Regions from separate parts of the Homo sapiens genome. Here region 2 is linked to region 1. Evidence: fine-mapped expression QTL. A gene starts in region 1. The other region holds a variant in brackets. All regions are shown on one strand. Distances are between the middles of the regions.

The links. PIP is the estimated chance that this variant, and not a neighbour inherited with it, causes the effect. A credible set is the group of variants that fine-mapping cannot tell apart.
Region 2: its variant is the best candidate, but not a certain one, in a credible set for the expression of DECR1 in whole blood (TOPMed, PIP 0.71).

Annotation. Positions count from the first base shown.
Region 1 is chr8:89,998,965-90,003,363 of GRCh38, forward strand. It overlaps DECR1 (2,4-dienoyl-CoA reductase 1), which reads left to right and starts at 2,513. Exons shown (of 10, transcript NM_001359.2): 1 at 2,513-2,597. The coding sequence starts at 2,529. RefSeq lists enhancers at 1,857-2,151, 3,000-3,139 and a silencer at 2,430-2,529.
Region 2 is chr8:90,036,630-90,041,028 of GRCh38, forward strand. It overlaps DECR1 (2,4-dienoyl-CoA reductase 1), which reads left to right. Exons shown (of 10, transcript NM_001359.2): 6 at 212-311. Among named protein-coding and RNA genes, the nearest start is that of DECR1, 37 kb to the left of the region's middle. The variant G/A (reference allele first, on the strand shown) is at 2,696.

The sequences.
Region 1 (4,399 bases):
CATTTTTTTCCCAGACATGTTCTCAACCTTGGCTAAATGATCGCTAACCCACAGAGATCTGCCTCAGTCACTTTTTGGTTTGCAGTCCCAAGTCAGTTGATTTTAGTTAATCAAAAAGGGGTTAAGACTATTTTCAGTGGGCCTCACTTAATCTGGTGATTGTCCTTAAAAGATGGGCTGGGGCCTCCCTGAGGTACAGAATTGTCCTTGCTGGCTTGATGTAGTAAGCAGTCTGCTGAGGAAGCCCACATGGGAAGGGATGGAGGTGACTTCTAGAAGCTGAAGGCAACTCCAGCCAACATCCAGCAAAAATGTGGGGCTGTCAGTTATATGGTTATGAGGAAAATAATTCTGCAAACAATCTGGATGAGCTTGGGATCAGATCTTCTCCAGCTGAGCCTCCAGATAAAAACAGCCTAGTTGACACCTTGATTGCAGTCTTCTGAGACCCAGAGCCAAGGATCCAGCTAAGCTGTGCCTAGACTCCTAACTCCTGGGAACTGTGAGATAATAAATGATTAATTGTTTTAAGTTACTTATTGTGTTACTCCATTCTCACAATGCTATAAAGAAATACCTCATACTGAGTAATTTATAAAGAAACGAAGTTTAATTGACTCACAGTTCTGCAGGCTATATAGGAAGCATGACTTGAGAGGCCTCAGGAAACTTACAATCATGGTGGAAGATGAAGGGGAAGCAGGCTGTCTTACACAGCTGGAGCAGGAGGAAGAGAGAGGGTGGGAGGTGCCACACACTTTTAAACAACCAGATCTCCTGAGAACTCTATCAGGAGAATAGCACCAAAGGAAGAAATCTGTCCCCGTGATCCAATCACCTCCTACCAGGCCCCAATTCCAACACTGGAGATTACAATTCAACATGAGATTTGGGTAGGGACACAAATCCAAACCGTATCACTAATGTTGCAACTTCTTTTTAGAAACAAGATGAATCCCACTTACAATTTGGTTTGGAAGTCAAGAATAACAGTGCCATACATATATCAAGAGCTTAGGAAAAGTTTTATTATTGATATATTCTCAAGGTTTTTTTGGGAGGACAGAAAATGCCTCCTAAGCTGGTCTAAAAGTTATTTAAGAGGGCAAGTGTTCTGGGCTGAATTGTGTACTTCCCTCTTCTCCCAGCCAAATATATACATTGAACTCTTAACCCCCAGTATGTCAGAATGTGGCTATATTTGGAGATAGAGTCTTTAGGGAGGTAATTCCAGTTAAATTAGGTCATTGAGGGTGGGCCTTAATCCAACACGACTGGTGTCCTCATAAGAAGAGGCAATTTAGATATGGAAAGGTACACAGGAGGATCATGTAAAGACACAGGGAGAAGATGGTCCCACAGTGGCTCCACAAGAAACCAACTCTGCTGACTTGTGGCCTCCAGAATTGTGAGAAAACAAATTTCCATTTAAGCCACCCAATCTGTGGTAGTTTTGTTCCTGGACCAAACTGAGGGTCAGGCTGCTATTTCTTGCTGCCAATAATGAGATGTCGATGAACTGGGGATGAAGAAAGTTTTTATTTCTGTAACCAGTTACAGGCAGAAGGCCTGGAAATTATCACCAGACCAACTCAAAATTACAAAGTTTTTCAGAGTTTATATACCTTATAAGCTATATGTCTACATGTAAGTGTACATTCCTCTGAAGATATAAATGTTTCTTTATCAGCATTTGGAACATGCCAGGCAAATAGTAAACACTCAATATCATCTACCATCAGCCTCAGCCTGGGGCCTCACACCCATCTTCTTTTATCTAAAATTCTGAATTAGCTATGAATATTCTCATTTTACGAATGAGGAAAGAAATGTGATCTGAGCTAATGCCTTGTGTCAACAGGTATATTACACTAAGATGGAGAATGATATACTGAATCTGTGTTTGCCTTTAACGTGTGTTTAACTTCGAGAAAAAAGCCAAGGCTGGGCGGTCGCAGTCACGCTGCATCCGGCGACAGGGGGCGGTGTGTCCTGCGAAAAGTCAAAACGCCGGAAGCTGCCCTTAGTGTTTTTCAGCCTCTTGGTCTTAGGGAAAGTGAGGCCGTGTTTTACATCCAACATATTATTATTCTGATAATATGTGACTTGGCGCCACGCGCACTCTGCACTTAAACACGCACTTAAGGGATAAACACATACGACTGAAAAAGAGTTTCGCCCTTGATAGGCAGTGTATGGGGTGCGCAGCTGCAATCTGCAAACCCTTGCAGGGCGCGGGGTTTCGTACACCCGCTCAAGGACGCAAAGAACCTCCATTCTCTGCCATACAAAGCACTCCTGGCCCAGAGAGCAGGAAAGAGCATCAGCTAGGCCCAGCTAGGCGGCGCCCTCGGCCGGACTCTGAAGGTCAGGGCCGCTGGGCGTCCACGCCGCCTGGGTCCCAGTCCCCGTCCCATCCCCCGGCGGCCTAGGCAGCGTTTCCAGCCCCGAGAACTTTGTTCTTTTTGTCCCGCCCCCTGCGCCCAACCGCCTGCGCCGCCTTCCGGCCCGAGTTCTGGAGACTCAACATGAAGCTACCGGCCAGGGTTTTCTTTACTCTGGGGTCCCGGCTGCCCTGTGGCCTCGCTCCTCGGAGGGTAAGGCGGCCGGGGGCGCGGGGAGCGAGGACAGGGCGTCTCGACGCGCAAAGAGAGAGGACAGGGCGTCACGGGGGCTCGGGGAGCGAGGACAAGGCATCCTGGGGCGCAAAGAGAGAGGACAGGGCGTCCCGGGGGTTCGGGGAGCGAGGACAGGGCATCCCGAGGCGCAGAGAGAGAGAGGACAGGGCGTCCCGGGGCCTCGGGGAGCGAGGACAGGGTGTCCCGGGGCTCAAAGAGAGAGGACAGGGCGTTCTGGAGCGCTAAGAGAGCACAGAGCAACCCGGGGAGCGAGAGAGAGGACAGGACGTCTCGGGGCGCAAGAGAAAGGGCAGGAAGTCTTGGGGCACAAAGAGAGGACCCGGCGTCCCTGGGGCTCAGGGAGCTAGGACAGGGCGTTTTGGGGCGCAGAGAGAGAGGACCACCAGGTCCCGGAGCGAAGGGCAACGCCGGGAGTGAGCACCGGGGCCCGGGTCGTATTCCACTGTCAGATGAAGCCCTGATGTGTGTAGGGGAATAGGGAAGAGACGTGATTTTCGAAGTTTTCACAGTTCTGCAAGTTTCCAACTTGTGTGTAAATAGGTAGAAAGAGGTAGGGAAGGATACGGCGCCCGTCCACCCCTTAAGGAGTGAGAGGGGATCAGGCCGAGCGAGCACTGACCTTTGACGTCCTTTGTTGTGAGGAAAGTCCATCTATGTGTTAGTTATGGAATTAAACACTAATACAAACAAATTATCATAAAAATGAAACAAAAACAAAACCCCAGCTGTTTATAGACTCCCCTTCCCAGATGTATAGCTGGGAGAGGTCCGTCTCACACTGGCTTCCCCCTCTCTCTGGCCCACACTCCTGTCACCATCTCCATTGCACCCATAGTGGAAATAGCTAGGAAGTGAAAACAGCTAGGAAGAAGAAAGAGAAACAAAAACAAAAAGAAGCAATAATATCCAAGACAAGCCCTCCCCACATCTAAATTACAAAATTGTTATAAGTAAACTAAAAAGCACATTTTCTTTAGCCAGGTAGAAAAATTAATATGTCAACTGTGAAAAAACTTCTTTTGATTTGATAGAATAGACAGCCATGGTGTTGTTTTTCAAAAAATATGGGCAGCAGTAGTTCCAAATAGGAATACAAAGAATTAGTATGGTGGTTCCCTCAAGTAAGGTATCTTTCTTTTAAAAAGTGAGATTTGTTCAGGGTTAGGGTTTTGCTGATTTTTTTTCTCTCCCTGTGAAAACTGGGTTATAGATCATTATAAAGGAAGCCCATATTTTCTGATACTTTTCAGAGACATTTCTCATTTGAAATCTACAACAGCTCTGTGATGTCTTCAGAGATTTCATTTTTTAACACACATCATTAGGATTGTAGCAATAAGGTCATACAGACCTTATCCAAGCTCTTCTGACACCATTAGACAATACAGTTTGAGAAGGAGAAAATGAACTCATTTAAAAATTAATTGTAATCTGACAATTTTGAAATTCCTTTGCTGAAGAAAAATATGGAAGTTTTGAGGTTCAGGGTTGGGAGGCAAGAGAGGTACCTGTTAGTGTGGTTTGTCCCCTTCCTAGCACATGTAGCCTCAAGTTTGAATTCCTGGGAGAAGAAAAGTCTTTACATCTGTGATGTGGGAGGTTGTTCCAGGGAACATCATGTTTTTGTGGGCAAATACAAGTTGTTATAATTAAAACCCCTAATTTGAATATTTTTGTTACCAAGAACCAAGGCAAATGTTTAATTTGTTATAAAACCTGTTTGTGAAGTGCTGTGTTAAATTGTGCTGCTGGCTAATAGG
Region 2 (4,399 bases), 38 kb after region 1:
ATTGGGCCATCCTAAATCATAAGATTAGTAGCAAGACATATCAATTTTCTTAGGTTACTCTCTCATTAATTTAGAGTGAGTGAAGTTTTAAAAAATACTTTAGTTTTTCTTATACCCTCTTTAATCAGATCCCATTTTTATAAATAATGTTTTCCTTATGTGTAGTGATACATCTATATTGCTAATCAACTGTATCCTTTTAAAATTTCAGGAGCAGCATTTCTTTCTATTACTACTATCTATGCTGAGACTGGTTCAGGTTTTGTAGTACCAAGTGCTTCTGCCAAAGCAGGTGTGGAAGCCATGAGCAAGTAAGTACTTCCTTGTCAATCCTGTTGCTGAACATAACTAATACAGTTGGTGGCTCAGGGAACTGTATTCCTGCTTTCTGGTGTCCATCCAGAGAAAAGTAAACAAAGACTTGGATTCACCATGAGACATACATTTTATCTCCCAGATAAGTCCTATTTGTCTATAGCAGCGCTGTCCTGTGGAACTTTCTGCAGTGATGTAAATGTTCTGTAAATATGCACTATCCAGTATCCACATGTAGATATTGAACCCTTGGAATATCCCACTGTGACTGAGAAACTAAATTTTAAAAATTAGTAGCTGTATATGGCTAGTGGCTACATATTAGACACCACAGGACTATAGCTTTTTTGCTCTCCCATAGATCTTTATCAGTGCCATCCCTAACCCCTCTCATAAGCACACGTTTATTCTTTTATTGTAGATACTGTATAAGATTAATGGGACTAACACAGACTATGAGCACTTCCCAAGTCCAGTGGCCTTTTCTCAGCAGAGTATAACTGCTTTTTTTTTTTTTTTTGAGACAGGACTTCAGTCTGTTGCCCAAGCTGGATTGCAGTGGTGCAATCACAGCTTATTGCAGCCTTAATCTCCCAGACTCAAGCGATCCTCCCACCTTAGCCTCCCAAGTAGCTGGGACTACAAGCAGGTGCCACAGCGCCTGGCTAATTTTTAAAATTTTTTTGTAGAGATGAGGTCTTGCTATGTTGCCCAGGCTGGTCTGGAACTCCTGACCTCAAGAAATCCTCCTGCCTCAGCCTCCCAAAGTGCTGGGATTACAGGCATGAGCCACTACACCCAGCCATGATTGCTTTTTGAATTTGTCCTCCACTGGCCTTTTCCATTGTCTTTATTATAATGGGGCTTCTCATCATTTCATTGCTTGTCTGGCTTGCTATAATCATGGTATATTTCTTTACTACCAGTCTCTTCCCCCTGTATTTTGTATTCACATTTTCACCAGAATTATCTTTCTAAGAACATATATGTCTGCTCACGACACTCCCCAGCTAAAAATCTTAGATCATTTCCTGTCACTCTTTGGAATAAAAGCCAGAACTCACTATGGCATTCTAAACAGACTTGTCTCTGGCCATTGTTAATTAATTTATTTATTCAATAAATATTTATTGTGTACCTTATATATGCTTCGTCCTAGGGATATGATAGTGATGGAAATAGAACAGTCCTCGTTGTTAGCTGAGCTTAAATTTTTTTACTATTCCATTTATTATTTCCATGCTTTAATTTCCATTGAACTGTTCCATGTTTCCCTAAACTTACCATACAGCTTTCATATGTCTATGGCTGAGTTATATTGTTGTTGGAATTTTGCTGTGATGTTTTGCTTACTTCCTTTGAGATGTTTTCTCTGTAATCATTTCCTCCTCTCTGTGCCTTAAAACTTTGTTTAATCCAATCTAGTGAGAGGACAAACACTAATAAATAGATTCTAAAATGAAGGTAATATACCAATGTAGCAGAGAGAGAGAGCAGGGCATCGCGGGCCTTTTTTTTTTTTTTTTTTTTTGAGACGGAGTTTTGCTCTTGTTGCCCAGGCTGGAGTGCAATGGTGCCATCTTGGCTCACCGCAACCTGTGCCTCCTGGGTTCAAGCGATTCTCCTGCCTCAGCCTTCCAAGGAGCTGAGATTACAGGCATATGCCACCACACCTGGCTAATTTTGTACTTTTAGTAGAGATGGGATTTCCTCCATTAACGTAACATTAAACAATCTGACTTCCCCACTTGGACCAGAAGAGTCTGGTCCGTAGCTGGTGCTTCATGCTTGTTGAGCTGAATTATGGTACTCTTCTTTTAGTAGTCCCAGAGCATTTTTAATATTTAAGTCAGTAAATACACATTAGTTTGAGATAGAAAGAAATATTTATTCACAAGCTGAATCTTAGTCTGAAAAGAGATAATTACCATTTTTTAAGGTCAGGTAGTGTTGGAAATAAAGGATGAGAACTTGACTATTTTGGCAGCATTTGTTCAATGTCAATATTTGTTTTGTGAGGACTCTTCAGTCTTGTTAGAGCTTTTTATCTCATGTCCTTTAAGAACTGATTTGGTGCTGCTTTTATTGTGTTCCTGCATATAATAGATGCTCATTAAACATGTGCCTTCCTTTACAGCTTGAGTTCCCATCAACCTTCTTCTCATACTTTATAGTACACAGTCTTACTAAATAAGGCATTATAGGTTCCCAAATTCTACATGTTGTTTGGGCCCTTGTCCTTTACTCATACTGACCCATATGCCTTGGCTGTCTTCCTTCTCCATCTGTATTAGTCCGTTCTCACTCTGCTATGAAGAAATACCTGAGACTGGGTAATTTATAAAGAAAAGAGGTTTAATTGACTCACAGTTTCCACATG[G/A]CTAGGGAGGCCTCAGGAAACTTAGAATCATGGTGGAAGGCACCTCTTCACAGGGCAGCAGGAAAGAGAATGTGTTCCAAGTGAAGGGGTAAGCCCCTTATAAAACTATCAGATCTTGTGAGAACTCACTCACTATCATGAGAACAGCATGGGGAAAACTGTCTTCAGGATTCAGTTATGTCTACCTGGTCCCACCCTTGACATGTGGGGATTATTACAATTCAGAGTGAGATTTGGGTGGGGACACAGAGCCAAACCATGTCACCATCCTACCTTCTTAATCTCTCAGCTCCTCCTTTCCCCTGCCTCTTGCAGCAAACTCCTAATCCTTCTTCACCCATCAGCTCAGAATGTTACCTTTTCAGAGAAGCCTTCCTTGTCACTCCCACTTAGGTTCTTCTTCTTTTAAGCAGGTATAGCTTACATCACACAATTCCCAGCCTAGTAACTGATTCATTATATAACCAGGCTCACCTCTCTTGAGAGGGAGGGACTCTCATTTGAGAGCAGGGACTGACTTTATTTGAGGCTAAGCAATATTTATAGTATTGACACATGGTAAGTATATAATAAACATTGGTTGAATGAGCAATAATAATGGCTAACATATTGCATATATTGTTCTTAGCATCTTAACATGCAGAGATAACTGTATGAGGTGGATTCATTATCAGATTACAGTAGTTCTTCAGTATATCAGCTAGCTTAATGACAGTTGAAAGATCATGCTAGCAATTGAACAAATGTATCTGGCACACCTCTGAGCACAGAGAGGATGGCTTTTCCTCTAGGCAGATTTTCTTAACAGGTTGCTCAGTTTTTCATAGGATAATATAGACTCTGCTCAGTACAGTAATTCTATTAAGACATGAAGCAATTTAGAGTAGATACACTATAAATAAATGCCCAGGGTAGCTATGGCAATGAACTTTGTCAAAAACATCACTCAGAGAAGCAATTTTTATGTATGTTCTGTCTGAAAGAGATACAGCCCACCCATTTCTCTAAAATACATTCATGGATTAAGTCAGATTAACAGGCTATCTTGAGATTACGTGTACCCTATTCTGTAGAACTGGTTTTACTGAATTGGCCTTTGAAATGATGCTATAAGACTATTAACGGATGTCTGATAGTTTCATAGAACTTAGCGCATTTTTAAAATTATACTTTAAGTTCTGGGATACATGTGCAGAATGTGCAGGTTTGTTACATAGGTATACATGTGCCATGGTGGTTTGCAGCACCCACCAACCCGTCATTTACATTAGGAATTTTTCCTAATGCTATCCCTCCCCTAGCTCTCCACCCCTTGACAGACCCAGTGTGTGATGTTCCCCTTCCTGTGTCCATGTGTTCTCATTGTTCAGCTCCCACTTATGAGTAAGAACATGCAGTATTTGATTTTCTGTTCCTGTGTTAGTTTGCTGAGAATGACAGTTTCCAGCTTCATCCACATCCCTGCAAAGTACATGAACTCATCCTTTATTATGGCTGCACAGTATTCCATGGTGTATATGTGCCACATTTTCTTTATCCAGTCTATCATTGATGGGCATTTGGGTTGGTTCTAAGTCTTTGCTATTAAGAACAGTGCTGCAATAAACATATGTGTGCATGTGTCTTTATAGTAGAATTATTTATAATCCTTTGAGTATATACCCAGTAATGGGATGGCTGGGTCAAATGGTATTTCTAGTTCTA